Regions from separate parts of the Homo sapiens genome. Here all the other regions are linked to region 4. Evidence: fine-mapped expression QTL. A gene starts in region 4. Each other region holds a variant in brackets. All regions are shown on one strand. Distances are between the middles of the regions.

Region 1 (8,235 bases), 90 kb after region 4:
AACTTCAAGCCATTTTACCAAAAATTGAAAAAAAAAAAACACTGGAGACATTGTAATACCCAAAATTCTATACAGCACTACAGTGTGAACCAGCCAGTAACATTTAATCTAAATTCTTCAATAGCTCTGCCCTGGACCTGTGTGCTGTTCTTTAACTAAATAGCAAAATAGGTGGCTCAAGTGGTAAGATGCACGACCCATCTGTGTTTGAGTCAGGGAGAGCAGTTCCCAGCTGGATGGCTCTAGAAGTGTGAGAATGGCAGAGAGCATGATCTACTCACAGATGCTATACTAACAGCCAAAGAGGGGCCTGTTGTTTAGAGAAAGAAGCTATTTTTAAAGTTTAACACAACTGGAAAATTTTGACTCTGCAAGATCAGGAAGTCATATTTCATTTTGATGAGACCCTAGCAGAATTCTCTGTGCACACTCAGAATTATGTTTTAGAAACTAGAAATATCCACAAGGGAAGCTATCAAATTATAAATATCTTATAAACTAATGCCTAAGGATAATAGTAAAGTTGCTTGAATCAACGGAGATAAATCTTGGGGCTAGAAAGCAGGGTTTGTTTTTTGTTGTTGCTGTTGTTGTTGTTTTTTGAGATGGAGTTTTGCCCTTCTTGCCTTTTTGCCCAGGCTGGAGTGCAGTGGCACAATCTTGGCTCACTGCAACCTCCACCTCCCAGGTTCAAGCAATTTTCCTGCCTCAGCTTCCCGAGTAGTTGGTATTACAGGTGCCCACCACCACGGCCGGCTAATTTTTTGGATTTTTAGTAGAGATGGGGTTTCACCATGTTGGCTAGGCTGGTCTCAAACTCCTGACTTCAGGTGATCCTCCTGCCTCAGCCTCCCAAAGTGCTGGGATTACAGGCGTGAGACACCACACCCAGCCGGGCTTGTTCTCTTTAGGATCTCACAAAGTGCCTAACACTGTGGGTGCACAGTCAAGATTTCGTTGAGGGCTAACTCAGCCTTACTTTGCATGTACAACAATTATAAGAACGATAATCTCTCCAACAATATATAGATGTTAGATGTTGGAGGCTGCAACATCTACCTTCTTCAACCTCTGATGGATGCACTCAATGCAGACCTATCTTATGGGGATCAACAGGCACATTTCGTAAAATGGCCAGATCAACAAATCTTCTCTCCCGCTTTTTTAAATCTCCAGTGCAGGAAAAATGTTAGGGATACGTAATTCCAACTAGGGGCCAAAGTAGGGCTCCTGGCCCACCAATTTTTTTTTTAATATTTCCAGTCCCTAGAGTACCCTTGGGGGAGGAGTACCAAGTAGGTCTTACTGCACATTGTCACACTCAGGGCACAGGAAGCAGCAAAGAACATGGTTTCTTCTAGTCTATCAGGAAATGAAGAATTTGGGCAAAACCGATTGGGCAAAACAGATGTAGAAACACTACATCATGTGTGAAAGGCAGTCAAATGGATGTCAAGCTCTTCAATATCCCTCCCCAAAACTCTTTGATGGGGTGTAGGTAGTTGCCATTTCTTCTATGAGCCAAGTTGAAATTATAAGTAGGAAGCATGAATGTTTCTCCTCATAATAAAATAGACAAGCATGGTTTTAATTTTAGATCAAGGAGATTCAAGTTAGAGCTAAGCAACACTCTTCTTTCAGTAAGAATTATTCACAATGAAAACAGTTCTCAATGAAATGCTCAAGATGTGGCTTACAAGTGAATGCCTAATTAAAGTCAGACTTCCATATTGTTCATGCATGCACTATAAGAAACAAAAAGTGGGGCATACAGCCAAAAATAGGAGATTCTGGACACAGAAAACATAGACAAATGTGCTACAGTAACTCAACAAGATTGACAATAAATATTCCACAACTGATCATAAATGATTTGTTTTCAGAACAAATTAATGAAAGATTGAGTTGAAATTTTTGTTTATAAAAGAAATCAGAAATGTATGGGAAGATTAAGCTTCTATTTGTCACCCTGCAGGAATGTTCTATTTGGCTCCAGGGCTTTATTTAAGAATGAAGTTTTACTCTTCTATGTAGGAATGCTCAGGCTTGGAACCAAAATCTATCTGCAGAGCCACTGATCTCAAAACACAGATTATCCTCTCTCTTACCTCTCGCATGACTTAAGTTCCCATTCTTGAGCTATCTATTTCTCCTTCTCTGATGAAAACTTTTCAAATCTCACCCGTTAGAGGAAGTTGCTTTTCCTTTTGCCAAATGATCCAAATAATGTGTGGTTCAAGGTGATTGTTCTTCCAATCCTCCAGGTGCCTAATCTTGTAGGGCACACAACCTTTTTCCACGGGGCTTTATTCTGAGGAAGATTCTTTTGTGAATCAAGATACAGCTGCTATAACTTGAGAAAGTGTAATAAGACCCCTTGGGTGAGCCATTACTTTTGAGTGAAGAAGGTAGTACTGAAGATGAAATGCAGTGAGTTCACCGGCATCTGCGTCTGCTGCTGCCTGGCTCATCTAGGGTCCTAGGATTGCTACTTGACCACAATTCAGAAGATACCAAGAAGAACTCAAAGAAATGTATCATTCAGTTAATTTTCACATTAGCTTACCAGCTTCCAAATAATATAAACAAGGTGGATGGTGTAATTAAAGTGTCAACAAGATTTTAGAAAATGTATAGTTCATGGCACTGTGCTAGGAAAACATTACTCGTGTAGGTCTGTGGGTAAATATTTTACTAATATTTACCTAATAGTAAAGTTGTTATGCCCACTTTAGCTCCCTATTGATTTGGAAGACAGAGGATATTTTAGATGAAATGTATAAACAAAGGCAAATCTTGATTTGGATTCCTTTTTTTTTTCTTTTTCGAGACAGGGTCTCACTTTGTCATCCACAGTAGTGTGCAGTGGCGTGATCATAGTTCACTGCAGCCTTGACTTTCTGGGCTCAAGTGATCCTCCCACCTCAGCCTCCTAAGTAGCTGGTACTACAGGTACATGCCACCACTCCTGGCTAATTTTTTTTTTCTTATTTTTTTGTAAAGACAGGGTCTTATTGTGTTGTCCAGGCTGGTCTCTAACTAAAAGGCTCAAGCAATCTGCTTGCCTTGGCTTCCCTAAGGGCTGAGGCTACCATGCCCGACTTTGATTCAGATTGTTAGTGAATATCAGAAGGTTCATACAACCTTTATCATTCAGCATCATGCATTGTAGACATATACTTTTAAACAATCAAAAATAAGAAACCTGGAAAATAGAATTTTCTTGAAAAACATCTCCAGTAGTGCGAGGGACACATATTTTGTGATCACCGTCTGCTAAGGTGTATTTGCAGGTCTTCCTTTTCCCTCTTGCAATTGCTCCCTGTGTTTCCTTGTGAAGCTGTGTTACGTGAGCCCAAGCAGAGATTCCGCCTAGGTATTCTATTAGCTTTTACAGTAACCAGTGTGTAGAAAACACAAATGACGGAAGTCATTGCTTTTAAAGCCCTTCTCACAAATGAATTTCCTTTGGAGACGCAATATCCCAGGA[G/C]CATAATAGATTTTCCTCTCCCTTCTTCCATTTGAACAGACACGTTCACAGCTAACTAATCAGTTGCAATTCTAATCTATATTTCTGATTTGTTTACATGCATCATGCAGGCTGGCAATCTTTTGAATTTAAATGTGACTTAAAGTAAAATAAAATAAACCACAAGTAAATGACACAGAATTGCTAACAGTAGGAACTTTGTTTACATTCCACATTCTGAAAATATTTTGTTCAGCTGGCTAGGGAAACCACATGGTGGAGACAGACTGGGTGAGGATTTGGTTTACTGCCTGGCTGGAATCAGGATGGAAAAAGGGATGGCATGTGATATGGCTGTCTGTCACCTCAAATCCAGAGAAAGAACACATTCTCAGCACACATGTGATCTGTGCTTTAACAGAAGAGCTCTAATAATCCTAGCCAGATCATCACGTGCGCCTGGCACTGGGCCAGAACAATATGCCAGTCTATTGGAGTATTCAGATAATAACCGTCTCTTCATTTCTGCAGTCATCAGCAGGTGCTGCTTCGTACATGACTCTCTTGGAGTCTGTTTGTTCTGCAAGTCCTTTGTTCCTGCCTACTTTCTGAAATTATCCTCTAATACAGTCCTATTTCTCCCTTCCCACCTACATTTGAAGGTTTATTGAGAGGCTTTCGTATTCTTGTTGGTCTCGCTGCCTTTCCCAGATGATGACTCCAGCTCAATTAAATGAAACTTAGCAATAGCTGAGGAATGGTCACTAAAGGGACAAGATGCATTGAAAACACACAGATGCCCTTTAACGTGGGCTCTGTCCTCCAGAGCAGAACATTGCAGTGAATGCACCTGTACCAGGGTGCATCCTGGTACAATTACTTGGTGTAAGAAATGAGAAAGAAGGCAGGAATGGAGATGAAGACAGAATTTAGAAGGGAAGAATGAGATTTTAGCAGGCCAGTTCTAATAGCAGATGCTCCTAAGATGCAACTCAGAAAATTAGTTATTTCATTATCCCTTTGTTAGGAATATATTGCCCACATGAAGAGAACCAAAGGAAAAAAAAATTTTTAGAGATGTAAGGACACTGTTCACATTGTTGTTGTCTTTTTTTTCTTTGAAAAAACAAGTCTCCTTAAGCACATGTGTACCTTGGGATCTCATCAAGGAACTCATCCTGCTTAGGGATTTCAGGAGCTCCAACAGAGAGTGCTTGGAGTACTTAGAAGAGGGGTCAAGGCATGGGAAGAGCAGAAGTCTCCTCTCCCAGCCTTTGATGTGTCCATCTGGAAAGGAAAGAATGTCTAGTAGCCACTGTGAGAAGCAGAAGAACTGAAACTGTTCCAGATTCTATAGGCATGTCTCCAATTCTCTGCCCTCCGGGGAAATTAAAGGCAGCCCCTGCTGCCTCGGCACCTTCCCTTGCCTCTGTCTTCCCTTTCCCCGCCCTGGCCCAAGCTCACCTTGACCAGCTCCAATCTCTGTTCTCTGAGTCTGGTGACAGGTCTTGAAAAGCACTGCCCTGCTTGGATGTTCTTTGGCCACACTCGGAGGAGTCTTGCTGTCCATTTTCAGGGGAGTGGTGTCCCATCCTCCAGCCTGGGCCTGCTTTCTGCTTGGTGTTCTTTAGTCCCAAGCTTCACAGACCTACTCCTCCATGCGCCCTCAGCCTTTCCTTCCAAACTTGCAGGCTTTGGAGAGAGCCTTTCAACTATGAGAGCCTCTCATAGTTATCAAAGAGCAACACATCAAGCTCTAGAATGAGAAAAGAGAAAACAAATGGAATTCTGGAAAAATTCTCCAGTAAATTTATAAATGCTTAGAGAAAAACCTTTCCCCCTATGACACAGACTTGTTCATGAAACAGAAGAATAATTTAGTTAATACTTTTAGTTCTCAATGAAAGAGGATATTTGGAACACACACATGCATACACACACACACACAGAGATCAAACTTTAATCAAAAGCAATAAAAAGCAGACTTAACACTGTAGAAAACTCTACCATGTGTAGATAACTAGCTTAAGGAAATGATTTAGATTGTGAAGGAATTTTTTTTTTTTTTTTTACTTCATTGAGTTCTAAGTCATTTACAATTGTCCATTTTACGTATACAGTTGGATGAGTTTTGGTCAACGCACACAGTTGTGCAACTATAATCACAAGAAGGTTTCCAACAGTTTTATCACTCTCAGACCTTCCTTTGAGCCCCTCTGCAGTAAGTCTCTACCCCCACTTCAGTCCTTAGCCCAAGGAAACTAGTAATCTGCTTTCCGTCACTGTAGTTTTGCTTTTATAGAAGTGTTTATCAATGAAGTCATACAATATATACTCTTTTGTGTCTGGTTTCTTTCACTTAGCAGAAGTGTTTTTGCGATTCATTCATGTTGTTCATTTTAGTAGTTCATTTCTTTTTATTGCTGGGTCCCTTGTATGGATACATCACATTTTGTTTATTCATAGGTAAGCATTTGGGCTGTTTCCATTTTGGAGGTTATTATGAATAACGCTACTGTGAGCATTCACATGAAAGTCTTTACGTGAACATATGTTTCCATTTCTTTTGGGTAGGTATCCAGGGATGAAAATGTCGGTACATTGGTATGTTGGTACATGCATATGGTAAATGCATATTTAAACTTTAAAGAAACTGTCAAACTGTTTTTCCAAAGATTTGCAGCATTTTGCATTCTTACCATCAATAGATGAGGGTTCCAGTCACACCACATCCTCATGTACCCTTGGTGTTATCTTAATTTTAGCCATTTTAATGGATGCATTTTGTTGTCTAATTTTAGATTTAATCTGTATTTCTCTACTGATTGATGATATTAAATAAACATCTTTCTGTGTGCTTCTTGGCCATTCATTTATTTTTATTTCGTAAATGTGTAGTCAAAACTTTTTTTGCCCATTTTTTCCATTTGGATTATTTGTATTCTTCTTCTTGAGTTTTAAGAGTTCTTTTTATATTCGGGGTACAAATCTTTTGTCATATCTATGTTTATTTTATATTCATATATAAATACAGATTTCCAATCCATGGCTTGTCTCTTCTTTTTTTCTTTTCTATTTTTGAGACAGGGTCTTGCTCTGTCACTCAGGCTGGAGTGCACCCTCAGCTCACTGTGGTGCCATCTCAGCTTACTGCAATGTCTGCCTCCTGGGTTCAAGTGATTCTCGTGCCTCAGCCTCCCAAGTAGCTGGGATTACAAGCATGTGTCACCATGCCCAGCTAATTTTTGTAGTTTTAGTAGAGACGGGGTTTCACTATCTTGACCAGGCTGGTCTCAAACTCCTGGCCTCAAGTGATCTGGCCGCCTTGGCCTCCCAAAATGAAGTCTTTTCATTTTTTAATGGTATTTTTCAAGAAGCAAACATTATTAACTTTGATGGAGTTCAATTTAACAGGTTTTTTTCCTTTATAGTTTGTGCTTTTTATCCCCCATCTAAAAAATCTTTGCCCTAACCCAAAGCCACAAGAATATTTTCCTGTGTTTTCTTCTGAAGTAAATATTTTTTATTTATTTATTTACATTAAAAAGAGTATTTATTGAGTACTTACTATATGCCAGGCTTGGAGCACTTCATATATATTATTTCAATAAATCTTCATAACAATCCTAGGAGGTAGGCTGTTTTGGTATTTTGTTTGTTTTATATTGTTTTTATACGTAATTACCTGCTCTACTGTTCTCTTTTAAAATTTCAATAGTTTGGGGAGAACAGGTGGTGTTTGGTGCATGGAAAAGTTCTTTAGTGGTGATTTCTGAGGTTTAGGTGCATCCATCACCCAAGCAGTGCACATTGTACCTAATGTGTAGTCTTTTATCCCTCACCCCACTCCCATCCTTCTTGCCCTCACTCCAGGCCCCAAAGCCCATTATATCATTCTTATGCCTTTGTGTCCTTATTGCTTAGCTCCCTCTTATAAGCGAGAACGTAAAATGTTTGGTTTTTCATTCCTGAGTTACTTCACTTAGAATAATAGTCTCCAACTCCAATCAGCTTTCTGCGAATGCCACTATTTTGTTCCTTTTTATGGCTGAGTAGTATTCCATGGTATCATAGATAATACATTATCTTTATTCACTGTTGGCTGATGGGCATTTAGGCTGGTCTCATAGTTTTGCAATTGTGAATTGTGCCGCTATAAGCATGAGTGTGCAGTTTCTTTTTCTTTTTCTTTTTTTTTTGACGAGATGAAGTCTTGCTCTGTCACCCAGTTGGGAGTGCAATGGTGCAATTTCAACTCACTGCAACCTCCACCTCCTGGGTTCAAGCCATTCTCCTGCCTCAGACTCCCAAGTAGTTGGGATTACAGGCGTGTGCCACCATGTGTGGCTAATTTTTTGTATTTTTAGTAGAGATTGGGTTTCACCATGTTGGCCAGGCTGGTCTTGAACACCTGACCTCAAGTAATCTGCCCACCTCAGCCTCCCAAAGTGCTGGGATTACAGGTGTGAGCCACCACACTCGGCAAGTTTCTTTTTCATATAATGACTTCTTTTCCTCTGGGTCGATACCCAGTAGTGGCATTGTTGGATGAAATAGTAGTTCTACTTTTAGTTCTTCAAGGAACCTCTATACTGTTTTCCATAGTGGTTGTACTAGTTTACGTTCTTACCAGCAGTGTAAAAGTGTTCTCTTTTCACCACCTCGCTGCCAACATCTGTTATTTCTTGATTTTTTAAAATTATGGCTATTCTTGCAGGAGTAAGGTGATATCTCATTGTGATTTTGATTTGCATTTCCCTGATAAT
Region 2 (8,235 bases), 68 kb after region 4:
GCTCTTGCCAGTGCTTTTTCAGAAGGGCAGAAGGCTGTCCTCCCACCAGAGCTGCGGTTCTTCACAGGCTCCTAGAAAACCACACAGGCCCTTCATCCCATGGGAACCTTTGTCAAATTCCTGTGGGTCTAGGTTAGAGGATATTTGAGAAAGACAAAGCAGTCACTTCTGCAAAAAATTAACCAATACCTTAACTCAGAGTCCAGACACTTTGACCCTTACCTTAGAGCAGTGTGTGGCTCATCTGCAGCCAATAACATGGAATTAGAGGTGGCTGCTGTCCTTCCTCTCTGTTGGATAGTCTTATTCTGAGAACTGAATCATCAGTCTCAAGACATGGAGATAAAAGGAATGGTTCTGGCATCAGATCGCTGAGGTTGAAAGCCAGCTCTGTCATTCCTGGAGGTGACTTTGGGCAAATCAGTTTGTCTTAATAAACCTCAGTTTCTTCATCTGTGAAGTGGGTCTATACTAGTCTACCACACATGGGTGTTGTAAGGATTAAAGCATATAAACCTTGCAAAACATCTAACGCAATGCCTAGCACAGTGTGTACTAAAATGTGAAGAATCATTCTAGCATTATAATCTTATTGTAGCTAGAAGGAGGCCCTCATATGCTGGAAGTCCCTGAAATGTGCCACAAAAAGGGCTCACTTCTGGAGCTTTATTTTACACACACACACACACACACACACACACACACACACACACACACGTTAATGTAATCAAACAAGGAGTTAGTATACTTTTAGTGGAAAATGAATTAGTTGAATTAAAAAAAAGCAAAGACATGTGTGCATCAGAAGTTCATGACCTAACCAGAAATAAAATCCCACACAAGCAGAAATAGTAATCTATTCCACTCCCCAGAAAAAGCAATCTCCTTGGCTGCCAGCCCAGTGAAGTGCAGCAACCTCTGTCACTGAGGACACTGCTCTCTGCCCTGGCATCTCTTCTTAGCTGCTGTGGGATGTGGGACCTGGGAACACATTTTTAAAAAACTGAATGAAAAACACATCAGAGTCCCCAGGAGATAAAAACTTAGTATCTTCTACGGTGACATGGACTTCTGAGTACTCATCTCTGGAGGCCGAAATATCCAAACTCAAGGACGAAAGGTCTGTTCCATCTGGAAGAAGCGTAAGGATTTCCTCAAGAAGCATCTGTACAGCTATTCTCTGTGCAGATGGTAGCCTGGCCAGTGCCATAGTGAGACTGAGGAAAGGGTCCTTCTACCACCACACAGTCTCCCTGGGGATGAGAACCTCTTCTTTGCAAGCTCATGAATATTGATGAGTCCAAACCACACTCGAAAGAGTCAGAACATATTGTAAAAGCCAAATTGCAAGTTGGCTCCTAAAGCTTGGGCAAAGGAGCAAATAATTTCAGCCCTGGGACTGGGCTGGGGCTGGCACAGCGCCTGAGCCTAAAAAGGAGGGCTGAGAGAACCTTGGCTCAAACCTCTTGTGGATCAAGAGGAAAGGAGGAGGAAGTGGGAGTCCAGGGGCTTTCATTCCCTGTAAACTCTGCCAACCAGTCATCCCGAAGTCAGAAGGCTGGAAGTCCCTGAAATGTGCCACAAAAAAGAGCTCACTTCTGGAGCTTTATTTTACACACACACACACACACACGCACGCACACACATTAATGTAATCAAACAAGGAGTTAGTGGTGTATTTTTTTTTTTTGGATGGAGTCTCACTCTGTCGCGCAGGCTGGAGTTAATGGTGCAGTCTTGGCTCACTGCAACCTCGGCCTCCTGGTCCAAGTGATTCTCCTGCCTCAGCCTCCCAAGTAGCTAGGATTACAGGCATCTGCCACTTCGCCCGGCTAATTTTTGTATTTTTAGTAGAGACGGGTTTCACCATGTTGGTCTGGCTGGTCTTGAACTCCTGACCTCAGGTGATCCACCTGCCTCGGCCTCCCAAAGTGCTGGGATTACAGGTGTGAGCCACTGCGGCCAGCCCGAGTTAGTGTACTTTTATAGGAAAATGAATTAGTTGTCTTCCCCAAGACAGAGTGCATGAGAAAAGAACCCATTGCCAGAGACTATACAAGCAAATCTGGCATAAATAAGAACTTCATGGGCAACAAATATTTACTGGGCACTCACTAAGTATCATGTTCTGTGCTAGGCACTGGAAATATGATGGAAAAAAGGAAACGATTCCTGATTTCAAGTTTACAGTGGTAGAAGTGTGGTGGGAGGGGAAGTAAAAACAATAACAAGCAAAATATAATGTATTGTGGTACGTTGTTGCATGCATCACTTTGTTCCTTTATATTGCCAGCTAGTGTGCTACAATTTGCTTTTCCATACACTTGCTGATGACCTTTGATGGGCTTCCAGTTTGGGATTATTATGAAGAGAGCTGTTATGAACATTTATGTCTTCAAGTGAACATACATTTTTGTTTATCTTGGGTTAATATCTAGGAATAGAGTTGCAGAATCATATGGTAAATGTATATTTCACTTCATAAGAAACTGACACACTTTTCCAAACTGGCTGGACCATTTTGCATTCCTATTAGCAGTGTATGAGAGTCCCAGGTGCTTCACAACCTTGTCAACATTTGATATTGCCAATTCAAACAATTTTAGCCATTGTAGACGGTGTATAGCAGTAGCCCATTGTGGTCTTATTTGCATTTCCCTGCTGATGAATAATGTTGAGTGTTTTTTAGATGTGCTTTTTGTGCCATTAGTACATCTTCTTTGGGGAAATGTCTATTCAAATCTTTTACCAATTAAAAAAATCAAGGACTGTGCCTCATTATTGAAGTTTGAGATTCTTTACAAATTCTGGACGTAAGTCCTTTATTTTCTAATCTGTGTTTTGCCTTTTCACTTTCTTAACTGTATTATTTTTTGAGACCCCTCCCCATCCTTTGGTAACTGCTTGCTATTCTACTCTCTACTTCTATGATAACAACATTTTAGATTCCACCTATGAGTGAGATCATATAGTACTTGCCTTTCTGTGCCTGGCTTATTTCACTTAACATACGGTGGAAGAGACTGGGTGCAGTGGCTCATGCCTGTAATCCCAGCACTTTGGGAGGCCGAGGTGGGCTGATCACTTGAGGTCAGAAGTTCAATACCAGCCTGGCCAACATGGTGAAACCCCATCTGTACTAAAAAAATTACAAAAATTAGCCAGGCTTGGTGGCGGGTGCCTGTAATCCCAGCTACTCGGGAGGCTGAAGCAGGAGAGTTGCTTGAACCTGGGAGGTGGAGGTTGCAGTGATCCAAGATCACGACACTACTACAGCCTGGGTGACAGAGTGAGACTCTGTCTAAAAAACAACAACAACAACAACAAAAATAAGGTGGAAGAGTAGAAGTTTCACATTTTGATGATATCTCCAATGTGCTAATTTTTTAATGCATGGTTTGTACACTTTTTGTCCCATCTAAGAAATCTTTGCCCCAATCACAAAGGTTTTCCCTCCTGTTTTGTTGAAGTTTTATGGTTTCAGATTTTCCATTTAGGTCTAGAATACATTTTGTGTCAATTTTTCTAGAATACATTTTGTGTCAGACATTGAGGGCATTTTTGGGCACGGTGGCTCATGCCTGTAATCCCAGCACTTTGGGAAGCTGAGGTGGATCACTTGAGGCCAGGAGTTGGAGACCAGCCTGGGCAACATAGGGAGACCCCTTACAAAAGACTAAAACATCAGCCGGGTGTGGCAGCACATACCTGTAGCCCCAGCTACGCAGGAGGCTGAGCCCAAGGGGTTGAGACTGCAGCGAGCCGTGATCATGCCACTGAACTCTAGCCTAGGTAACAGAGCAAGACCCTGTCTAAAAAAAAAAAAAAAAAAAGAAAGAGAGAGAGAGACAGAGAGAGAAGGAAAAAGAAAGGAAGGAAGGAAGGAAGGAAGAAAGAATCACCTTTTCCCTTTTGATATCTTGGTACTTTTATTGAAAACTGAAAACCAATTGACTATTTATGCGTGGGCCTATTTTTGAACTCTCAGTTTCATGGATCTATATGTCTGTCCTTATGCTAACATCCCACTGTCTTATTTTAGCTTTATAGTAAGCCTTGAAATTGACCAGTGATTGTTCTTTTTTTTTCTCCAAAATTATTTTGCTTATTCTAGGATTCTGCATTTCTACATAAATTTCTTTTTTCT[C/CT]TTTTTTTGAGATGGAATCTCGCTCCATCACCCGGGCTGGAGTGCAGTGGTGCTATCTCAGCTCACTGCAACCTTTGCCTCTTGGGTTCAAGAGTTTCTCCTGCCTGTCTCCTGAGTAGCTGGGATTACAGGAGCGCACCACCACACCTGGTTAATTTTTGTATTTTTAGGGGTTTCACCATGTTGGCCAGGCTGGTCTCGAACTCCTGACCTCAGGTGATCTGCCTGTTTTGGCCTCCCAAAGTGCTAGGATTACAGGCGTGACCCACTGCGCCCCGCCTGCAATTCTATATAAATTTCTACATAAAAAATTCGCTTGATTTTGATTGAGACAGCACTGACTCACAATTTAGGGAGAATTGACATCTTAACAATACCAAGTCAACTGAACTATGAACATGTGTGTCTCACTATTTATTGAGATATTCTTTAATTTATCTCAGCAAAGTCTTGGACTTTTCTCTGTGCAGTTGCCCAACCTTATCTGCAGAGGACACGTTCCAATAACCCCAGCTATGCCTCAAACTGTGGAGAGTACTGACCCCTATATATCCTATGTTTTTTTAATATCTACTTACCTATGATAAAGTTTAATTTATAAATTTGGCATAGTAAGAGAGTAACAATAACTAATAATAAAGCAGAAGAATTATAACAAACTGTAATAAAAGTTGTGTGAATGTGGTCTCTCAAAATATCTTCATATTTTTGGATTGTAGTTGACTGTAGATAACTGAAAACTGCTGAAAAGGAAAAGACTGATTTGGTTACTATACATACCATCATTATTTTGTTATGTTTATTCCTAAATAAATCATGTTTTGTGATGCCATTTTAAACATATTGTTAAAATGTAAATTTCCGATTGTTTGTTGCTACCATATAGAAATATAATTGATTTGTGTATGTTGACCTTGTATCCTGTGACGTTGTTTAAATTTGCTTCTTAGCTGTGGTTACTTTTTGGTAGATTCCTTTGGATTTTCTGTATCAACAGGCACATTGCTGGTGCATAGTGACAGTTTTACATATACATTTCCAAAGATAGGAATTTTATTTTGGTTTCTTGCCTTATAACATTAACTGGAAACACGCACTGAATAGAAGTGACAAGAGGGAACATCTTGCCTTCTTCCCGATCTTAGGAGAAAATAATTCAGTTTTAAATTATGGCATTAGCTGTAGGTTTTTGGTGGATTTCCTCTATCACATTGAGAAAGTTTTCTCCTATTTCTAGTTTGCTAAGGGCTTTTTGTTTGTTTGTTTTAAATCATGAATGGGTATTGAAATTTGTCAAATGCTTTTCTGCACCTTTTAAGATGAAACTATATGAATCATACAGTTTCTCCTTTTTAGTCTGCTAGTATGATGAATTATATTTATTGATTTTTGCATGTTGACTCAATATTACATTTCTAGGATAAACCCCACTTGTTCATGATGTATTCTTTTATTATATGTAGCTGGATTTGATTTACTGAAATTCTGTTAAGGATTTTTGTGTCTGTGTTCATAAGAAATATTGGTCTGTAGTTTTCTACCTTTTAAATTTCTTTTTCTAGTGTTATCAGGGTAAAACTAGCCGCATAAAGTGAACTGGAAAGTCTTCTTTCTATGCTTTTGTGCAGGACTGGTTTTATTCCTCCCTTAAACATTCAGTAGAATTCATCAGTCAAGCCTCTGAATCTATGGGTTTTCTTTGTAGAAAGGTTTATGACTGCAACTTCACTTTCTTTAATATAAATAGGGATGTTTAAATTATTTCTCTTTGAGTGAGCTTTAGTTGTTCTGATCTTTCAAGGAATGTATTTTTATCTAATTTGATGAATTTATTGTTTTAAGTTTATTCATAACTTTTTTTATTATCCTTTTAGTAGGGTATAGAAATTGTTCATTCTGGGTACTTGTAATTGTGTGTTCTTTATCTATTTTTCTTGTTTAAGTTGGCTAAAGATTTACCAGCTGTGTTTTCAAAGACTGGTTTTTGTTTTCATTGATTTTCTCTACTGTTTGTCCATTTATTATTCTATTGATTTCTGGTTATTTCTTCCCTTCCACTTACTTTGGGTTAAATTGCTCTTCTTTTTCTATTTTCTTAAGGTGGAAATGTAGACATTTAACTATAAAGTTTTCTACTTTCCAACATAAGTATTTAAACTTATAAATTTCTGGCCGGGTGCAGTGGCTCATGTCTGTAATCCTAACACTTTGGGAGGTCGAGGCGGTTGGATCAGCTGAGGTCAGGAGTTCAAGACCAGCCTGGCCAAGGTGGTGAAAACCCATCTCTACTGAAAATACAAAAATTAGCCGGGTATGGTGGCGCATGCCTGTAGTCCCAGCTACTCAGGAGGCTGAGGCAGGAGAATCGCTTGAATCCAGGAGGTGGAGGTTGCAGTGAGCCGAGATTGTGTCACTGCACTCCAGCCTGGGTGACAGAGTGAGACTCTGTCTCAAAAAAAAAAAAAAAAAAAAGTTATAAATTTCCTTTTTAGCACTGTTTTAAATGATTCCCACACTTTTTATATGTGTGGGAATATGCTTTCATTTTCATGCCTTTCAAAATATTTTCTTATTTCACTTGTGATTTTTTTATTGGTGTCAGATAATATATTTTAGAAATTAATCCTTTAAATTGTATTAAGACTTGTTTTATGGACCCAATATGGTCTATCTTGATAAATTCTCCGTGTACACTTGAAAAGAATGTTTATTCTGCAGTTGTTGAGTGAGTGTTTTATAAATGCCAATTAATTTAAGTAGTTAGTAGTGTTGTTCAAGTTTCATGCATCCTTACTGGTTTTCTTCCCACATATTTTAACAATTATTGAGAGAGGAGTGTTGAAGTTTATAACTGTAATTGTGTCTATTTCTTCTTCTACTTCTACCAGTGTTTGCTTCATATATTTTGAAGCTCTGTGAGCACTGTTGTGTTTTCTGATCCATTTCCCATTATGATCCCCAATATGAAATCTACTTTGTATAATATTAATACAGCCAATTCTCTTACTTTTGCTTAATGCTTGCATGACATTCTTTTACTTTTTTGTAACATTTTGGGGAATGTTTTGTTATTCTTTTTTTTAACCTGTCCATGTCTTTATATTTAAAGTCAGTTTCTTATAGACAACATACATATAGTTAGGTCTTACTTTTTTAATCCAATCTGACAATCTTTTAATGGACTGTCTAGACCACTTACATTCAATAGAATTATTGATATAGTTGAGTTTTAATTTACCATATTGATATTTGTTTTCCCTTTGTCCCATCTATTTTATGTTTTCTTTTTCCTTTGTTCCTTTATTCATTCATATTAATCAAATTATTTTTAGATTCTATTTTCTCTCCACTATTGGCTTACTAGCAATTCTTCTTTTTTAAGGTTTCTTTTTAGTGGTTGCTCCAGGGTTTACAATATTTAACTAATCACAGCCTACTTTCAGATAACATTATATGATTTCACATGACATGTAAGAAACTTACAACAGCATACTTTCATTCTGCTCCTCCTGTCCTCTGTGTCATTGTTGTAATATATTTTACTTCTATGTAGGTAATGAAATCCACAGACTTTGTTACGTTTGCTTGAAATAGTCAAATATCTTTTAAAGAGATTAAGTAGGAAAAACATGTTTTTATATTTGCCATTTCCAGTGTTCTTTATTACACTGTGTGAATTAAAATTTTTACAAGTTATTTTCTTTCTGCCTGAAGAGGTTCCTTTAACATTTCTGCAGTTCTGCTGGTGATGAAATAGTTGTTCTCATTTTACTAGGAACATCTTTCTTTTTCATTTTCTTTTTTGGTACAATATGGTTACATTTATAATATTGGAACATGTATGTTTAAAAATGCATGGAGTACTTGCTTCAGCAGCACATATACTAAAATTGGAATAATACAGACAAAATTGGCTTGGCCCCTGCACAAGGATGACACACAAATTCAAGAAGAGTTCCACATTTTTGTATTTAATGCACTCAACTGTGCACTTAAAAATAGTAGATTTTATGTTATATATATTTTACCTCAATAAAAAACATAGACATGGGTCTAGAAATACACATATAAAACTGTTAATATTGGCT
Region 3 (8,235 bases), 120 kb before region 4:
AAAATCTCGTCTGGAAGTGGCATACAAGAAGAACAGCCTGAAGAACATTCAAACAGAAGCCAGAATGGGAGAGGGCTAGGCAGCCGGTGTGCATTATAGCCTTTCTCTGTAGAACAGCATTTACTAAATGTAAACTACACACTGGTGTGGCCTTTGCTAATTGCTGCGGGTGTGATGTTTGACTCGGCGGACTGCATCTTCCTTCATGAACACCTGCCAACCTGAGCAGGGTCCCAGACCTGCCCTCAGTGAGCCTAGCAGGGGTCACCCCGAATAGATCAGTATCAAATAAGCTGTGTGAATGTTGAGACCTTTTATGAGGTTTCTGTGGAATTCTCTGATCATGTAATTAACACTGTTACTCTTCACTGCTGCTGTATTTTTAAAAACCTCTTCTATGTGAGATTTTGCTGAGATGTATATGAGTGGCATGTCCACCTTTAATGGTCAACGTTTGTGTCACCTATACATTTCCTTGTTCTTAATTTGCTTTCGTTTAAATGTAATTTAAAAATGGACAAATTAGCAAAACGGTGCTGCAACTGTGGCTGTATTTATACATGGCCTATACTGATAATTAGCAGCCTATACGGACAATTTTTTTTTAAGTTCTCTAACATTCTTGTATGTTTCTCAGCTTGTGGCAAGGATGTTGTTTTATCAGGTCAGATGTCCCTGTGTCCGCTCTGTGGGGAACTCCTTAGAGTCAACCCTGTTGCATCTTAGTACCAAGACCACTTACATTTCTCCTTGGCAACAGACTCAAAGTATCAAGCATGCTGGTCATCTTGGCATGAATATCTACGCTCATTCCAGGCTCCATTTTGTGCCTTTATCTTTCTGCCTCTTCCTTTTCTTTTTTTCATTTATTCTAGCTTGTATTTCCAACTTCTTTGAAGGCCACCTTAAATCCTTTCTGGAATAAGGTCAAGAGTGAATACATGAATAAATGAATGAATGAATGAAATGCAGGTGCAGAAGCTGAGTTCAGAGATCATCCAAGAGGCAGTTCCTAACAGGTTAGGATCTATGTCTCCTGACTTCTACTTAGTGCCCTTTAAATAATTTATATTAATAATGTGATTCCCAATCATTAAGACCCTACAAATTATATTTAAAATATTCTGTTTATAAAAAGAAAAAGTATAGATGTTGGATAAAGGAGACTTTTCTGAATAAAGAACTCACCAATAAGATAACAATTTTGTAGCAGTGGAACAGAAGGAAGTCTTTATACTGTTAAAGCCCCTGGGAGGTGTCAATAGACTTATTTTGATCCCACACTTATTTTATGTAACACTGGGGATATGTCAAATCCCTATGTTAGGTTACAATAACTAACCCAGAGAAAACATTTCAAATCGTGATTTTTGTAAAGTCAAAGGATGCTAAACTCAAAGTTGTCATCAAGAAGTTGGTACTTCAATTCTGTGTCACATTTTATTAGCATGGTATCATGGCCATTTTTTAGAACAATATGCTCTCATCAGTCATGAGATATCACTTCGCTTTGAATGTTCTGAGACAACTGAAAGAAAGTATAAAGAGAATGCATAAGTATGATATCAATTTCCAGAGGGGAAAAAATGAAAAAGTAGACAGTTTAAAAGGTGAAGAGTTCAAAGCTGCAACCTGTAATTCAATTCATTCAGATAACAGAGCCTCATGTCTTCCCCCTCACAGGTAGCATCCTGGCACTTTAAAATTTCCTGTAGAATAAGAGGCAGTAGCATAAGCAGTGTAGAACAAATTTCAAAAGGAATAGATATTATAAAAGATTTATTAGATATTAAATGAATTTAGAGGCTAATGATTTTAGAAAACAAACTAGAGGCAGTACCAAGTTTCAAGAAACAGAATATAGCTCAAAGATTTTTATAGACTTCACTGCAAGCAAAATGCAATTGATCATATTTGCAAAGATTGGAAGAATAAGCAACTGCCAAGAAAGAATCCATGATATTAGAGCATCATGCATGAACATAAAGTAATGCTTTTAAAGGGATGTTTAAACAGACATCTAGGAGCTCACAAGTCCAGGCCAGTGCTGCCTTCGAAGCAGATACTTAGTAAGTGTGATTGTTTATACTCGAGAATCCTTTTATTAATATATTCAGGACCTGCGGCACTTTATTTTGAATACCCATTGTGACAGCCAATTTTTACCTTTGGGGGATTGGGAGCTATTTAAGTTAAAAACACCGTGTGACTCTGCTATGAATGGAAAGTTTGTGTCCCCCAAAATGCTTACGTTGAAACCCTAATCCCCAAGTGATGGTATTAGGAGGTGGGACCTTTGAGAGCTAATTAGGTCATGAGCTTAGAGCCCTCATTATGTGATCAGTGCCCTTATTAGAAGTGACAGAAGAGTGCTTTTGATCCTATCCCACCCACCATGACCCTGCCAACACACGTGAGGCTACAGTGAGAAGCTGGCTGTCTGCAAACCAGGAAGAACCTGACCATACTGGCACCTTGATCTCAGACTTCAACCTCTAGAACTGTAAGAAATAGATTTCTGTCATTTAAGCTACCCAGTCTACGGTTTTTTATGACAGCTCAAGCTGACTAAGGTCCTAAAAGCAACAATGTGTGTATGTGTTTTAAACACCAGTTGTGAAGATGATTCCTGGGATGTTGCAACAGCAGACATGTTCATACCATATGACTACAATTTCTCCAAGTGACTTAGTTGTTACGTTATTTTTATACCATGGATGTTATCTTGATAATAGCGATGCTATGGCCACCACCACACATTGAGTATCTAGTGTGTGACAGACACTGTGCTAAGCACTTGACATGCAATTTCCTATTTAATCTTTAGAATCCATATTAGGTGTTATTATTATCCCGACTGTATAAACAAAGAAACTGTGGCTTCAAAATCCAGGCAGGGTGTGGAGGCTCACACCTGTAACCTTAGCACTTTGGGAGGCCAAGATGGGAGAACTGCTTGAGCCCAAGAGTTCAAGACCAGCCTGGGCAACATAGCAAAACTCCACCTCTATAAAAACACAACTTAAAAAAATTGGCCAGGCATGGTGGTGCATACCTGTGGTCCCAGCTACTTGGGAGGCTGGGGTGGGAGGACTGCTTGAGCCCAGGAGGTTGAGCATGCAGTGAGCTGTGATCACGCCACTGCACTTCAACCTGGCAACAGAGCAAGACCCTGTCTCTAAAAAACAACCAAGACCAGAAGTCACATGCTTAGTAAGCGACCTGGCTGGGATTTGAGCCCAGGATTGTCCAACGCTGGACTTCATGCTCTTATACTCCATGGTGAAGGAGGCCTCTCACAGCGCGGGCTGGGCCTTGGGAACATGTGCTCTACCAGAGAAGCTTGTGCTGGAATTTACTCCAGGAGAGACAGATTGCTGCTCCCAAGGATGGTCTACTTTACCTCCAGTGATTACAATGGAATTATGCTCGGGGATGAAAAGGGGGCAAGAAGCAGACCAACACCCACCTTCTAAAATCAGAGAGCTTGCTCCGTAGCAGATTGTGAATGGCGTGGGCCCTGCTGGGGCCAGGACAGAAGAACCAGTGACAGCAAAATAGGATTCGGAGGTGTAAATAGATACATACTCAGAGGTCAACACCTAATCTCTGGCACAGGCAAAAACTTCTGCAAAGTTGCCAAATCTTAAGCTGAATGATTTTAAAATCAGAGTAGTGATAACTGAAACTATTA[C/T]ACAAGAGTATTTAGGTTAAAAGTGTTATACAAATAATGAATGACCTTTATAGCACAAGCATGCCTAAAGGTTAACTGCCAGGAATCTGGCCACTGTAATTTTAGAACACAGGGTTAGAGGAGATGTTTATGTGAAATGTGTTCTTCTTGTTCTCTAACTATATATTTAAATCTCTGGCCTTGGTGAGAAATCGCTACGCATGTTAATCTTCTTGGAGTTTCAAATAAAGATCAAGAAAAATTACCTGGTGGTATTTCTTCAGGATGTTGTGCATTTCGGCCACGTCTTCACTGGTAATAGTCTTGATGATGTATCTTTTGTCGTAGGAAGTGTGAAAACGAGCTCCACTGCGGGCCTGGGAGTCGTTGGGGAGGGGTGCGCTCCTGGTCAGGGAATTCTTCCCGGGTGGGGTAAGAGGGGAAGGAAGGCGGGGGAAGATAACTAGTTAAAGGTGTGGCTTTCCGATTCCCAGATAATTTGTCATCATTGCAAGTTTTCAAAAACATTTGTGTGTGGGATAAATTGATAAGTAGGATGACAACATTTTTACATGCATCATAACTCACATTGCAAGCCTTTCAGATGAAATGAAAACAGCTTGAATTGTACTATGATTCTAATATCTTTAAAGCAGGCTAATGTCTAGAATTATAATCAAAGTAACTTTAATCACTTAGTTCTTTTCAGAGTTGGACAAGCTCTCAAAGTTTTCTTCTGAATAAAATTAGGTTCCAGTCATAAAAGAAAATTTTACAGTCACTGAGCATTTCCTTATATGACAGGTATCGTGCCAAGCATTTTGCACAGATTATTTCCCCCAATTCTGATAACATTCCCATGCAATGGTTACGATTGCTATCATCACTATTTTACAGATGAGGAGATGGGAATAAGAGAGGCTTAGTATCTGGGCAAAGGGCATATAGCTAATAAGGGAAGAGCTAGAATTCTGACTCCAGTGTGGCTGGCTCAGAATCCAAACTCTCAACTAGTAAACTACTCAACTAGTAAAGTACTTAACTTGCAGACTATGCTACCTGTGTGCCCCAGGAGGAGGAGGCAGGAGCCTGGGAGAGTGTCTTCTAAAACAGCTCCTCCTTAGGCGATTTGAATTTGGTCCATCCTCCACTCCCTACCACCATTTTTGAGAACTACTGATCTCCTGGAGGGTGGACAAGGACGGGCTCTGAGTAGGGGCTCTGCTGACATCATTCACTCCAAGATCTGGTTCATGCTAGTGACACTGGCTAGGTAGGTCTACCCTTCTCCTCCCATGTGACTCTTCCGTTCAGATCTCCTCTTTCTTACATCCTCCAAGAAGCCTCCTCCTTGCCCCAACCTCTTGACAATGGCCGTCCAGCCATGGGGTCTAGCAAACCCCTGGCCCCCAGAAAGTCTCGTCTCCATCCTTGCCGACTGCTCCTGAGCAGTGACTTTCACTCCTTGCCTGGCCCTGCGGGATGGCCTGTGTGGGATTCAAAGGCAAACATGCTTTCTCTCTTTAACTTGCTCTCTGAAGTGGGCATTCAAAGGCCTCAGTGGCCAAATGCTGTCAAGTTAAGGGAACACAGATACCTTCAGAGGGGCAGGTGATAGATAGCTCTGCCCATGAATTTGCAAAAGAAAGAGTGCCTTTCTGTCTAGTATATTCCAGTCTCTTTATCCTTTCCTTCCTTTCTAGATGAAATCAACAGGACTGAACCACCTGAGGTAGAATCCATTGCAGCAGTGCAGGGGTTTACGCAGGCCCTACCTATGCCTGAAGAGAAAAGTGGCCCATGAGCAAATCTTCATCTTCCAGGATTCTCACCTCACCACCCTGGCACCCCCTGTGGTGGATCACACGTTCTGCAATAGCACACCTTGATCTGAAGGCAAGCAGGCGCACCTGCCAGATGCAGAGTCCAGGCCACCAAGTAACTGAATTTGCTTTCCTTAGCTTATTAGAAAACTTGAGAGAAGGAAAAAAAAAAATCTACATAATCCCCAATGACTTTAAATAGCAAGACTTGGCAGTGTTCAGTTATTCTTAAGACAACTAAAATTTATTAGATAGACTGAGAATGATAAAAATGACTTTCAGGATGAAAATGCCTACATTAACAAGAGTTTAATTCTTAATTACATTTTTCTTTCCTAAAACATGAACAAGATCTCCTTTATACTACTTCCCACTTAGAACAAAAAGGAAGAAAATCAAAGTGAATTTCCCCTTGTGGGGTTTTAAATGCTAGCCCCCAAAAAGCAATTATTGCTCTTTGTTAGTGGTCTTACTTTTTTCTTGCAATCACTAATTTGCAAAAGGGTATTTCTTTCAAATAAAACAAGAACTCTAGGAACTGTAAGATTGCAGATTATCTTTGGGCATAAAATCAAAGTGGGAACAATCAAGTTTATGAAAGCCAGGTGGAGCAGACCAAGTGGAACAGACCTTAAACTCTGTCAAACTGACAATACGTGTAAAACAACTTTTGGGGGATGGGGAATAGTAAAGGAGAACTGTATTCAGCACAGGATAGAATTCCAGCAGCCTCAGTTTCATAGATCGTTTTCTTATGCACATTAGATAGGACAGTATAACGTCCTCTCATGGGCCAATAGGGTGAATCAAAAGCTGCATAGTCAGTGCATCTCAAACTTAACAAGCAACTGAATCACCCAGGGATCATGTGAAAATGCAGATTCTGATCCAGCAGGTCAGGGGTGGGGCATTTTCAGAAGTAGATGCTGCTGCTGGAGTGGGTCTGCAGACCACACATGAGAACCAAGGTCTACAGAATGGTGTTTACCCTGTGTTTTACTGGCATGCAGCACGTAAAGTCTAGCGTATTAAGTACATTATAATTACAGACTTACCGGCACTCATGCCTTTCCCATTATATTCTCTACACCTCTAGTTCGATTAAAATGGGAAACTTTATAGTTCAGAATAATAATTCATGGCATTTACTTTACTAATTAAAGAAGGGTTTAATAATACTATGTACCAGTACCAGGACAATGTACAGGGTTTTTTATTTTTATTTTTTGAGACAGGTTCTCACTGTGTTGCCCAGGCTGGAGTACAGTGGTGCGATCTTGGCTCACTGCAGCCTTGATCTCCTGGACTCAAGTGATTCTCGTGCCTCTGCCTCCTGAGTAGCTGGGATTATAGGCATGTGCCACCATGCCCAGCTAATTTTTTTATTTTTAATAGAGACAGGGTTTTGCCATTCTGGCCAGGGTGATCTCGAACTCCTGGCCTCAAGTGATCTATCTGCCTGCCTTGGCCTCCCAAAGTGCTGGGATTACAGGCATGAGCCACCATGCCCAGCGCAACATATGGGTTTATAAAGGGCTGGAAACGTAAAAGCAAATAATGTAGGAACTCCTTAGCTCAGATACTACCTCTTCCCCAGTTTGTGCCTTTTCTTTCAATTTCAAAGGCATTACTATAATCATATATGCAGACACTGGATTAGGATATCAGCCATGTCTTCACCCTGGGATATAAAACCTTAAAAATTCGAATCTTGATTCTGTCTCAAATCACCATTTTAATAATCCACGTGAGTAGCCCCAACCCACACTATCTGAATATTTTTAAGGTTCATGAACATGAAATAACCAATGAAGTTAGGAACACTGTGTCAAAACATAGAATGTACCTTTCATATCACTATGAATATAAAAATACATAAATCAAGTGTATTAAAAGCCTTATCTGATAAGGAGGAAATCAAAAGAGTTCATGCAATTCTATACAAAACACCTGATCCTTGGAATGATTCTAAGGCCTGGAAAAATCCAACTCATTATTTCATATTTATTTTCACAATATTCCTGTGAGAGAGGAAAAGCTAGATCCATTTTTCCCACCTCAAGATAAAGAAACTAGTGTACAATGGAGCCAAGCAATGTGCCTAAGATTCCTGTCTAAAGCTTTCTATGAACTAACCAAAAAGGGCGATTTACAAAGATAAGACTAAACTTCTGTCATCATAATCATAGACTTTTTGTAGCCTTTAAAATAAAGTAAAATTGTTTATGTATTTTTATTATCATTTACTTTCTTGCCTTCTTCCAAGGCATGCAGCAGACATGTGTTTTTAAAGGCAGCACAGTGGCTCATGCCTGTAGTCTCAGCGCTTTGGGGGCTGAGGTGGGCGGATCACTTGAGGCCAGGAGTTCGAGACCAGCCTGGGCAACGTGGTGAAACCCGGTCTCCACTAAAAATACAAAAATCAGCCAGGTGTGGTGGTGCATGCCTGTAATTCCAGCTACTTGGGAGGCTGAGGCACGAGAATTGTTTGAACCTGGGAGGCAGAGATTGCAATGAGCCGAGATCACACCACCGCACTCCAACCTGAGCAGCACAGGGTAATGGTGAGGGCACTGGTCTGAGATCTAGAACATTCATCAGTTCTTGTAGATTGCATTTAGTCTCTTTGAGCCTTAGTTTCCGGGTCTATGAAGTGATGGAAAATAAGCTTGGGGAGAGAACAGGCTGAATTAGACCTCTACCTTGGATCTTTTATGACTCTAAAAATGGATTTACTCA
Region 4 (8,235 bases):
AAACAGAATCTTGAGTTAGACTTGGAAATCATCCAAACAACCTCAGTTCACAGATGCAAACACTGATGCCAAAACCTGACCTTAACATGCCCAAGGTCAACAGTTAGAATTTAAGAAAAACTTAAAGCGCAGATTCAATGAGCGTTTTACCACAGTATGTGGAAGATGCTCGTATACAACACCATGCTTGTTTGTTCTTAAGACTGCTGACATATTTATTCTCACATTATACTATAAACTTTGGTGCACAGAAGGTCATATAAAACATTTATCTAATATCAGACATTGTCACCTAAAATGAAATCAAACCAGAAATACATGGCATCTAAGGGTTTTAGATTTCATGTTTATATTACACCTCCATTCTTTTTTCAAAAATAATATAGTAAAGAAAATAGACATTTTGAAAAAAAAGGCTGTGAAACAGACCTTTCTTATGTCAACTCAGAGCCCTCAAAATAAAGACAGTTGGATAAAAATATTAGAGGTGTTTTAGCAATTCTTCCCACAGTAGCTGGCACTGTATGTGCCCAATATATATCTGTTGAATGAGTAACATGCTTACATTTATATGAAATGGAAACTTCACTCCTCTGGTTGTGGATACTTAGAACTGCCAACTTCTCTTGAGAGCAAAAGAAAATAACACCAAATGTACTATTTACAAGTCATACACTATGAAACACTTAAGTAGTTTCAAAATATTTCCAATTAGCAAGAAACTCTAAAACAAATGTAGCAATTCATAAATATAAGGTAGCAACGTAAGTGGTTACAGTAAAACATACACAATTACAAGATTTTTTAAGGCAAACTGGAATTCAGACGAGTTCCCAGAAAGCACACTCTTTTTCGGCAGCATATTGTTGACACTACCTTACTAAATTAAACCCCGAGACAGAAACACTCTCCTGACCAAAACACCAGAACTCCAAAGGAGATAAAAGCACCATAAATATGAGTAAGCACTACAGTATTCATCCTTTTTTTAAATTGTAAGTTTCTATTCTAGTAATAAGGGACCCAAAAACTACTAACATAAATAATAAAAGAGCTTAACAAAATTATACATAACTCTACATTGTAAACTTATTACTTAGGAAAAATTGCATTTCATTTTCCGTAATAAAACTTGAGAGAGGAGTTTTTGGTGCAGTAATGCATGCTCTTGTAACAACTTACATTCCCAAATAGCTAAAGAAGTTGCCAGGAAGTTAAAATGAACTTCAGTGAGTCAGTCATTAAGCTGGATAAAAATAATCATTTCTCAACTTTTCCAAAAACACTCACTCCATGCAAACACGATCGATCCTGATACTGTTTTGCCCTTCCCCCTGCTCAGCTTGGGGAAGAAAAATACAAAAACGATGCTTTTAGGCATTTTAAACAACTTCACTACATTGAGGGTGTGTGTGTGTGTGTGTGTGTGTGTGTCTGTGTGTGTGTTTTCCGAAAAACCAGCATGGTTTTCTGTCATTTCCATTACGCTGAAAAGGACATACAGACATCCATCGAAATCAAAAGCAGGGAAAGCGAACTTACACTTTTCCCCAGATGCTAAGTGACTGCAGTGGCTAAGGTCATGGTCAAAATTCACAGCTCGTTTAAACTTTCCTGGCTGAGCCAACAGCTCCGATCATGTTTCCTGATCCTATCGAAGTGGATTAAAACTGCAGGAGTTTCTCGCTGTCAGATCAGCAGGAGGCTATTTCAGACCCTCGAACCGCAGTCCGCATAGCCCGCAGCGGCGCATCCTCCAATCCCCGACTGTGCGTGACGCTAACCTTTCCACGCGTTCTCCAGCCTTTCCCACACCCCCCACAGCGGGTGCGGCCAACTCGGGACCCCCTCCGCCCGCGCCCGCCGGGACCCCCGCCTGCTGTCCCCGCCCCGGCCGCCCTTCCGCAGTCGGTGACTTCTGCCTGACTCCCCAAAGTGGGGGGAGGCGACGAAGGGAGGAAGACTCCCCGCCAAGGGCTCTCCAGCCCGCACAGCGGCAGGGCGATGCGGGAGAAGCGCAGGGATGCCGCCCGACGCCAGAGCCATATTTACATCGGCTGCTGCTTTGCCAAAAAGCCGACTTGTGCCCAGTAATATTGCCTTTAAAGGAAAAAGAAAGGACCTAAGCACTAAAGCTGCTGCCCCAAATCTGCTCGCGCTCCGGTATCCTCGCCCCAGTGCCCCAGTGGGAGGCTCGCACGCGCCCAGCCCGGGACAGGTACACCTGCCCGCAAGCGGAAGACGCGGGCGCCGCGCGGCCCCCACACCGGGTAGCGGTCGCCCGGACCCGGCCCCCAGCAGCTCCCGCCGGGGCTGACAGCCGAGGCGCCGTGCCCCGCACAAACTTCCTACCTCCCAGGCTGCGGGGACCGACCTGCGGGCGGGCGGGCGGACCGGGGGCGGCACTGGCACCCACCGTGAGACTCACATGCACACGGGACCCCCGACCCGCACCGGGCCATAGATCTAAAGGGGACGCAAGTGGTGGTGCCTGGGCGGCCCAGAGGGCTGGGGGCACGCGCCGCGGGGCTGGGGGCTTCGAGGCGGGCGAGCAGCCGGAGGTCCAGGGCTGACTCCGGCTCCCCGCCCCGCAGCAGCTGCAGCCGGAGGAGGAGGGGAACGAGGAGGAAGAGGAGGAGGAGGAAGGGGACCGCGCGCCGCAGCTGAGCCCTTACCGAGTGGTTTACCCCCCACATGAGGACGCTGAGCAGCGGGTCGCTGGCCCGAAACAGCTTCACTTTCTGCGCTACGAAGTGCTTCTTCTTGGTCTTGGTCTTGCTCGCCAGGACAGAGGACCCTAGGTTGCCGGGGGTCGCCATGGCCGCCTCCTATGTCCCCTCCACCGCCGTGCTCCCGAGGCCGGGGACCCGCCCTCTCTACACCCCGGCCCGGGGAGGCAGCCGCATCCCCCCGGCGGCGGCCCCGGCGCGCCGCGCTCCGCTCCGCCCGCCGCCGCCGGCGCGCTCAGCCCCACTCGGCTCGCTCCGCCCGCTCGGCCCGGCAGACTGCGCTCGGCTCGCGCCCCGGCCCGTATCCTGCGCCCGCCGCGGATCCGCGCTCAGCCCGCGGCTGGACCCGGCGCGCGGCGAGCGGCTTCCGCGTTGGGCGCCGGCGTCATGACGCAGGGGGCGGGCGGGCAGGCGGGAGGCGGCTGCGGCGCCGCGGGCGGGGCACTGGGTGCGGGGCGCGGGGCGCGGCAGCTGGACCGTTAGGCTGCGCCTTCCCGCCCCGGCTCCGCTGCAGCCGGGCCGCCCCCTGTGCGCGGGCGACCTCCGGGCGTTCGCTCCCTGCCCGCGGAGGAGGCCGTGGGTTGCGAGCGGGAGCCTGGGGACCCCGGCTAGGCGTCCCCTGCCGCTCCCCAAGGAGGGAGAGGACAGAGTGGGCAGAGTGAGGAGGTTGGGGAGAGGAGCCCCCAGGCGTCGATCAGGCGAAGGAGGGAGGCTCATGCACTCACCCACGCCACGAGTCAGGAGACCCAGCCAGGTGTGAAATGCTGCAGGGAGACCAGGGCTTCCCAGCACCGAGGGGAAGGACCCGGGCACATTGCCGGGTCAGTCCCTGAAATGAACTTAATACTTTTGTGCGGATAACCGTCTGGCCTTTCAGACCCTCGATATGGGCCTCCTGGAGCCATTCAAGAGGGAGACTCCCACGTAATAGGCTGGGCTGTCACTGCCAACCCACTCCGTGCCCGGGGCAGGAACCTCGGACCTCATCGAGAGCCCTTGGCTTAACCAGTAGAATCATGCCCCAAAGTGCACCTTCTTCCAATCCATCACTATGGTACTTGCCATCCCTGCCTGTTTTCCAGTGCACTCACCGTCCGTGGAAATCTGTTCACCGTCTTCCTCCAGATACACCTAAATGTAGCCCTTATTATGCTGAGAATACTTGGCCTACCTCAGGAAGCTGCCATTCCAAGTATGTCTAAAACCCTGCTGCCCCCATATCGTCCTTGCAGTCGTCATCCTGTGCTATTTACTCTGACCCAGCTCACCAGTCCTCACGGAGTAGGTTCTTGGAAACTGTCACCTTAAGCAAAACAACATATAACAAAACCAAATTTGCCATAGGCTGACATATAAAAAAAGAGTTAAGTTCCTACAGCATTATTTCCGGTTACAAAAACATCACCGAACTTCAAAGTAAAAATTCAAAACACTTCTAATATTAAACATTAAAATAAATGTGAGCTATACCTCTTTTTTATTTTTATTTTTTCCCTTGAGATAGGGTCTCGCTGTGTCAACCAGGCTGGGGGTGCAGTGGTGCAATCACAGCTCACTGCAGGCTCTACTTCCCCAGACTCAGGTGATTCTCCCACTTCAGACTCCCCAGTAGTTGAGACTACAGGCGCGCACCACCAAGCCTGGATAAACTTCTTGTATTTTTGGTAGAGATGGGGTTTCACCATGCTGCCCAGGTTGGTCTCGAACTCCTGGGCTTAAGGAATCTGCCCACCTTGGCCTCCTAAAGTGCTGGGAATACAGGCACCAGCCACTGCACCTGGCCTACCTACATTTTTTAAAGATTGATAAAAACAAGATAATGGTTTGCCAAATTTCTAGTGATTAAGTGAGCGATGGTTGCTGTGGTGCTGGGTTAAGTCAAGGAATAAGTGTTTGCAAAGCAAAAGTTGCCTGTAGGACCTGCTGCTACCATGAAATTCAAAAACAATCACAAATATGGTAGCTGAGTGCACTCCTATCTCATTTATTGTCGTGCATTTTTATGATTAATGTACACTTACATATTTTTATTTTACAGTCATTTGTTTCACGGATTTATTCATTTTTCCAACTCATTTATTCCAGTTCAAGGTCACAGATAGTGGGAGCCTTATCCCAGCTGCTCAGCTTGGGCAAAAGGTGGGAACCATCCCTGGATAGGATGCCATTCTGTTGCAAGACACACACACACACACACACACACACACACACACCACACACACACACACACACCCCTACACTCACTTAAACTGGGACCATTTAGGAAGGGGGCAGTGATTCATGCCTGTAGTCCCAGCACTTTGGGAGGCATGAGGCAGGTGGACTGCTTGAGCCCAGGAGTTGGAGACCAGCCTGAGCAATATGGTGAAACCCCATCTCTACCATAAATACAAAAATTAACCAGGCATGGTGGTACACACCTGTAGTCTCAGCTATTCTGGAGGCTGCAGTAGGCGGATTGCTTGAGCCCAGGAGTTGGAGGCTGCAGTGAGCTGTGATAATGCCACTACACTCTAGCTTGGGTAATAGATGGAGACCCCGTCTCTTAAAACAAAAAAAAAAAAAGAAAAGAAAAACTACTGGTATCATGTAGACAAGCCTATGAACTGAACGTGCATGTCTTTAAGATGTGAGAGGAAACCAAGGTACCCAAAGAAAACTCTTGCAGGCACGAGGAGAACCTGCAAATACAAACAGTGGTCCCGGCTAGAAATCCATTTTTTTCTCATCAACATTATAACAAAACAACATTGAACAAAATGACAGTATTTGAGGACCCGCTGTAAGTTGTCTGTTGTCATTATTACTCCACTCAAATATAGTAGATACCTTCTGTGCCCTTGGCAGACTGCTTGGTCCTGTCAGGGAGATGAAGGATGACAGGCCATTATCCCTTTAGGATCTTGAGTCTCCTCAGGGGTTGAGGGGAGGTCATGTGGTCACCTTCATTTGCTCCTATTCTTTCTTTGACTGTTTTTTAAGTCCCCTCGTCGTAATTTCCTGCTTGCTTTCATCCAAAATGATATCTGCTTCTCCAGCATCAACCATCACTGCTCTTAGTGGTTTAAAAAAGCCCAAAACCTAAATTTTTAGTGAGACATCACGGGGACTGAGCTGTAGCTCTCCCACTTACTTGAGCAAATCACTTAACCTCTCCCAGCCTCGGGTTCTTTATGTTAACAGTAACTATCATCAGACACAAATGTCACTTTAGGAACTATTTTGAACCTAGTAATATAATCCTCCCCTACCTACATTATAGGATGTTTGTTAGAATCAAAATCAATAGTAGATAATGGCAATGAAAACCCTTTGTAAACCAGACAACACAATAGAAAATGTAGAGTGCTTGCAAGTAACTCATAAACTCTTCCCCGACCCCAGAGAAATGCCTGGTTGCACATTTGTACATCATTTTTCCACAGGCATCTTTTAAAAGTGTCTAAAACCATCTGGGCATGCTGGCTGATGCCTGTAATCCCAGCACTTTTGGGACGCCAAGATGGGAGAATCACTTGAGCCCAGGAGTTCAAGGGTAGCCTGGATATAATAGCGAGATCTCATTTCTACCAAAAAAAAAAAAAAAAATTTAAATTAGCTGCACATGGTGGTATGCATCCTGTGGTCTCAGTTACTTGGGAGGCTGAGGCAGGAGGATCACTGAGGCTGCAGTGAGCTATGACTGCACCACTGCACTCCAGCCTGGGCAACAGAGCAAGACCCTATCTCAAAAAAAAAAAAAAAGATATCTAAAGCCAAGTTTGACATCTTTCCCCATCCACAAGTTACTTTATTTCTTGTATTATATTGGAAATGGCATTCATATCACTCGGTTACCCCAGCTGGAAGTTCTTTTATTTAACAAATTTTCATTGGCCAGGCTTGAAGGCTTACCATCATCATCAATTATTGCCTTTCACCACCACCCAACCTAAACTCCTTTATTGGATCCTGCCCTTGAAAACAATTAGACTCAAAAATCCTCTCTTCCCTGATGCTTTCCTGATCCTCCTAATTCAAATTCATCCTTCCACCTCAGTGCTTCCATAGCATTTATTTGTTTCATAATAGCTATATTATACTTAATTTTATATTAATAATGCAAGACAATAGGCTTGCTGCAACTGCCAAAAAACTGAATTTAGTGATGACAGAGTGCTGAATGACCCTAGAGGAAGAGGGGATGGATACCTGTTGTTAGGAGAGGCTCCGCCTTAGGAAAGCAGCAATCTGTGGGTGGGTGCAGAGGCCAATAGCACCATGTGAGGGACAGATAGGGGCATAGTGTGGTATTTTTAGGTAGTTATGAGGAGACTTGCAGGTTTCAAAGGACAGAATTTCTGGTGATTTAACATGTTTTGAAAGCCATCTAACACAATACCATTCACAAATACATCATTAAATTATTTATTTATTTATTTTATTATTTATTTTTTTTGAGACAGGGTCTCACTCTGACACCCAGGCTGGAGTGCAGTGGCAAGAACACAGCTCACTGCAGCCTTGAACTCCTGACCTCAAGCCATCTCCTGCCTTATTAAATGATTTTGCCAATAACCTTTCACATTAGCTTTGTGCTCTGTGGAGGGTATGTGTGATGCAAGAGTTCTAGAGTCACAGAAATGACCTTAGCTCACGCCTGTCATCCCAGAGCTTTGGCAGGCCAAGGCAGGAGGATCGCTTGAGCCCAGGAGTTTGAGGTTACAGTGAGCTCTGATTGTGCCACTGCACTCCAGCCTGGGCAACAGAGTGAGACCGTCTCTAAAAATAAGAAAGAAAAGGAAAGAAGAACAAAGTGACCTCAAAATGTGTAATCCAATTCTCAAATTGTATGCATTCGATAGACAATTGATATCTAGAGAAATGTAATAAGTAATTTCTTGGGCAATAAGAAACTTTGAAGGCAAGGACCATGGTGTACCCACTTCTAGGGCGTCTCAGTGAACCCTGAATACTCCCTTTCCCATAGCACCCGTGGTGAAATTTTGGTGAATAAAGAAAAAAGGAATATTTTATCTCTCATAACAAAGTTACATGTAAAGTTTGCGTAGCCAGAAAATGTTTTGTGCAAGGTTCCATTCAGAAATACTTTGTTAGGAAATTAGGCTAGACATAATATTTAAACTCGAGGGCTAGATACTACATGCGGACTTAGCCACCTAGCAATTTGATCGCTGTTTTCCTTTGGGGTTTGCATGCTAATGAGACAAAGTGTATGTCCTGCTTGTTCTTGGTTCAGCCCACCTGGTTCAAGCTGCTTACCTTGTCAAGCTGCCAAACCATCAACATTCGCCAAAGGTCTGGAAGAGAGGCATAGATCTTCCTTCTCTAGGAGGAAGATCAAGGGAGTGTGACTTCAAGAAGAGCATGTGGTTGTGTCAGTCAAGAAGAATGCCATGCCCTCCTCAACAGCCACATCCTTTTGCATTTGGCCTGGTGGGATGTTACACATCCAGATGGCAAAGCCATCACAAATGGAAGAAAGGCTCCAGCAGCCAAGTTCACT

Which allele goes with the higher level. Alleles are on the strand shown, and positions count from the first base shown. SD is a standard deviation of normalised expression in the study named. Not every link is listed here.
For the expression in testis of the gene that starts at base 3,071 in region 4, allele C in region 1 goes with a lower level than allele G (large effect, 1.1 SD a copy in GTEx).

The links. PIP is the estimated chance that this variant, and not a neighbour inherited with it, causes the effect. A credible set is the group of variants that fine-mapping cannot tell apart.
Region 1: its variant is the best candidate, but not a certain one, in a credible set for the expression of PIP4K2A in testis (GTEx, PIP 0.87).
Region 2: its variant is the best candidate, but not a certain one, in a credible set for the expression of PIP4K2A in atrial appendage (GTEx, PIP 0.82).
Region 3: its variant is the best candidate, but not a certain one, in a credible set for the expression of PIP4K2A in nasal epithelium (TOPMed, PIP 0.88).

What each region holds. Positions count from the first base shown.
Region 1 is chr10:22,801,678-22,809,912 of GRCh38, forward strand. No RefSeq gene overlaps it. Among named protein-coding and RNA genes, the nearest start is that of PIP4K2A, 91 kb to the left of the region's middle. The variant G/C (reference allele first, on the strand shown) is at 3,491.
Region 2 is chr10:22,779,386-22,787,620 of GRCh38, forward strand. It overlaps the pseudogene RNU6-413P. Among named protein-coding and RNA genes, the nearest start is that of PIP4K2A, 69 kb to the left of the region's middle. The variant C/CT (reference allele first, on the strand shown) is at 4,148.
Region 3 is chr10:22,587,690-22,595,924 of GRCh38, forward strand. PIP4K2A (phosphatidylinositol-5-phosphate 4-kinase type 2 alpha) reads right to left here. Exons shown (of 10, transcript NM_005028.5): 4 at 3,940-4,092. Among named protein-coding and RNA genes, the nearest start is that of PIP4K2A, 120 kb to the right of the region's middle. The variant C/T (reference allele first, on the strand shown) is at 3,695.
Region 4 is chr10:22,711,508-22,719,742 of GRCh38, forward strand. It overlaps PIP4K2A (phosphatidylinositol-5-phosphate 4-kinase type 2 alpha), which reads right to left and starts at 3,071. Exons shown (of 10, transcript NM_005028.5): 1 at 2,676-3,071. The coding sequence starts at 2,819. RefSeq lists silencers at 1,807-1,916, 2,217-2,336, 2,507-2,586, 2,887-3,556 and enhancers at 2,717-3,325, 3,326-3,933.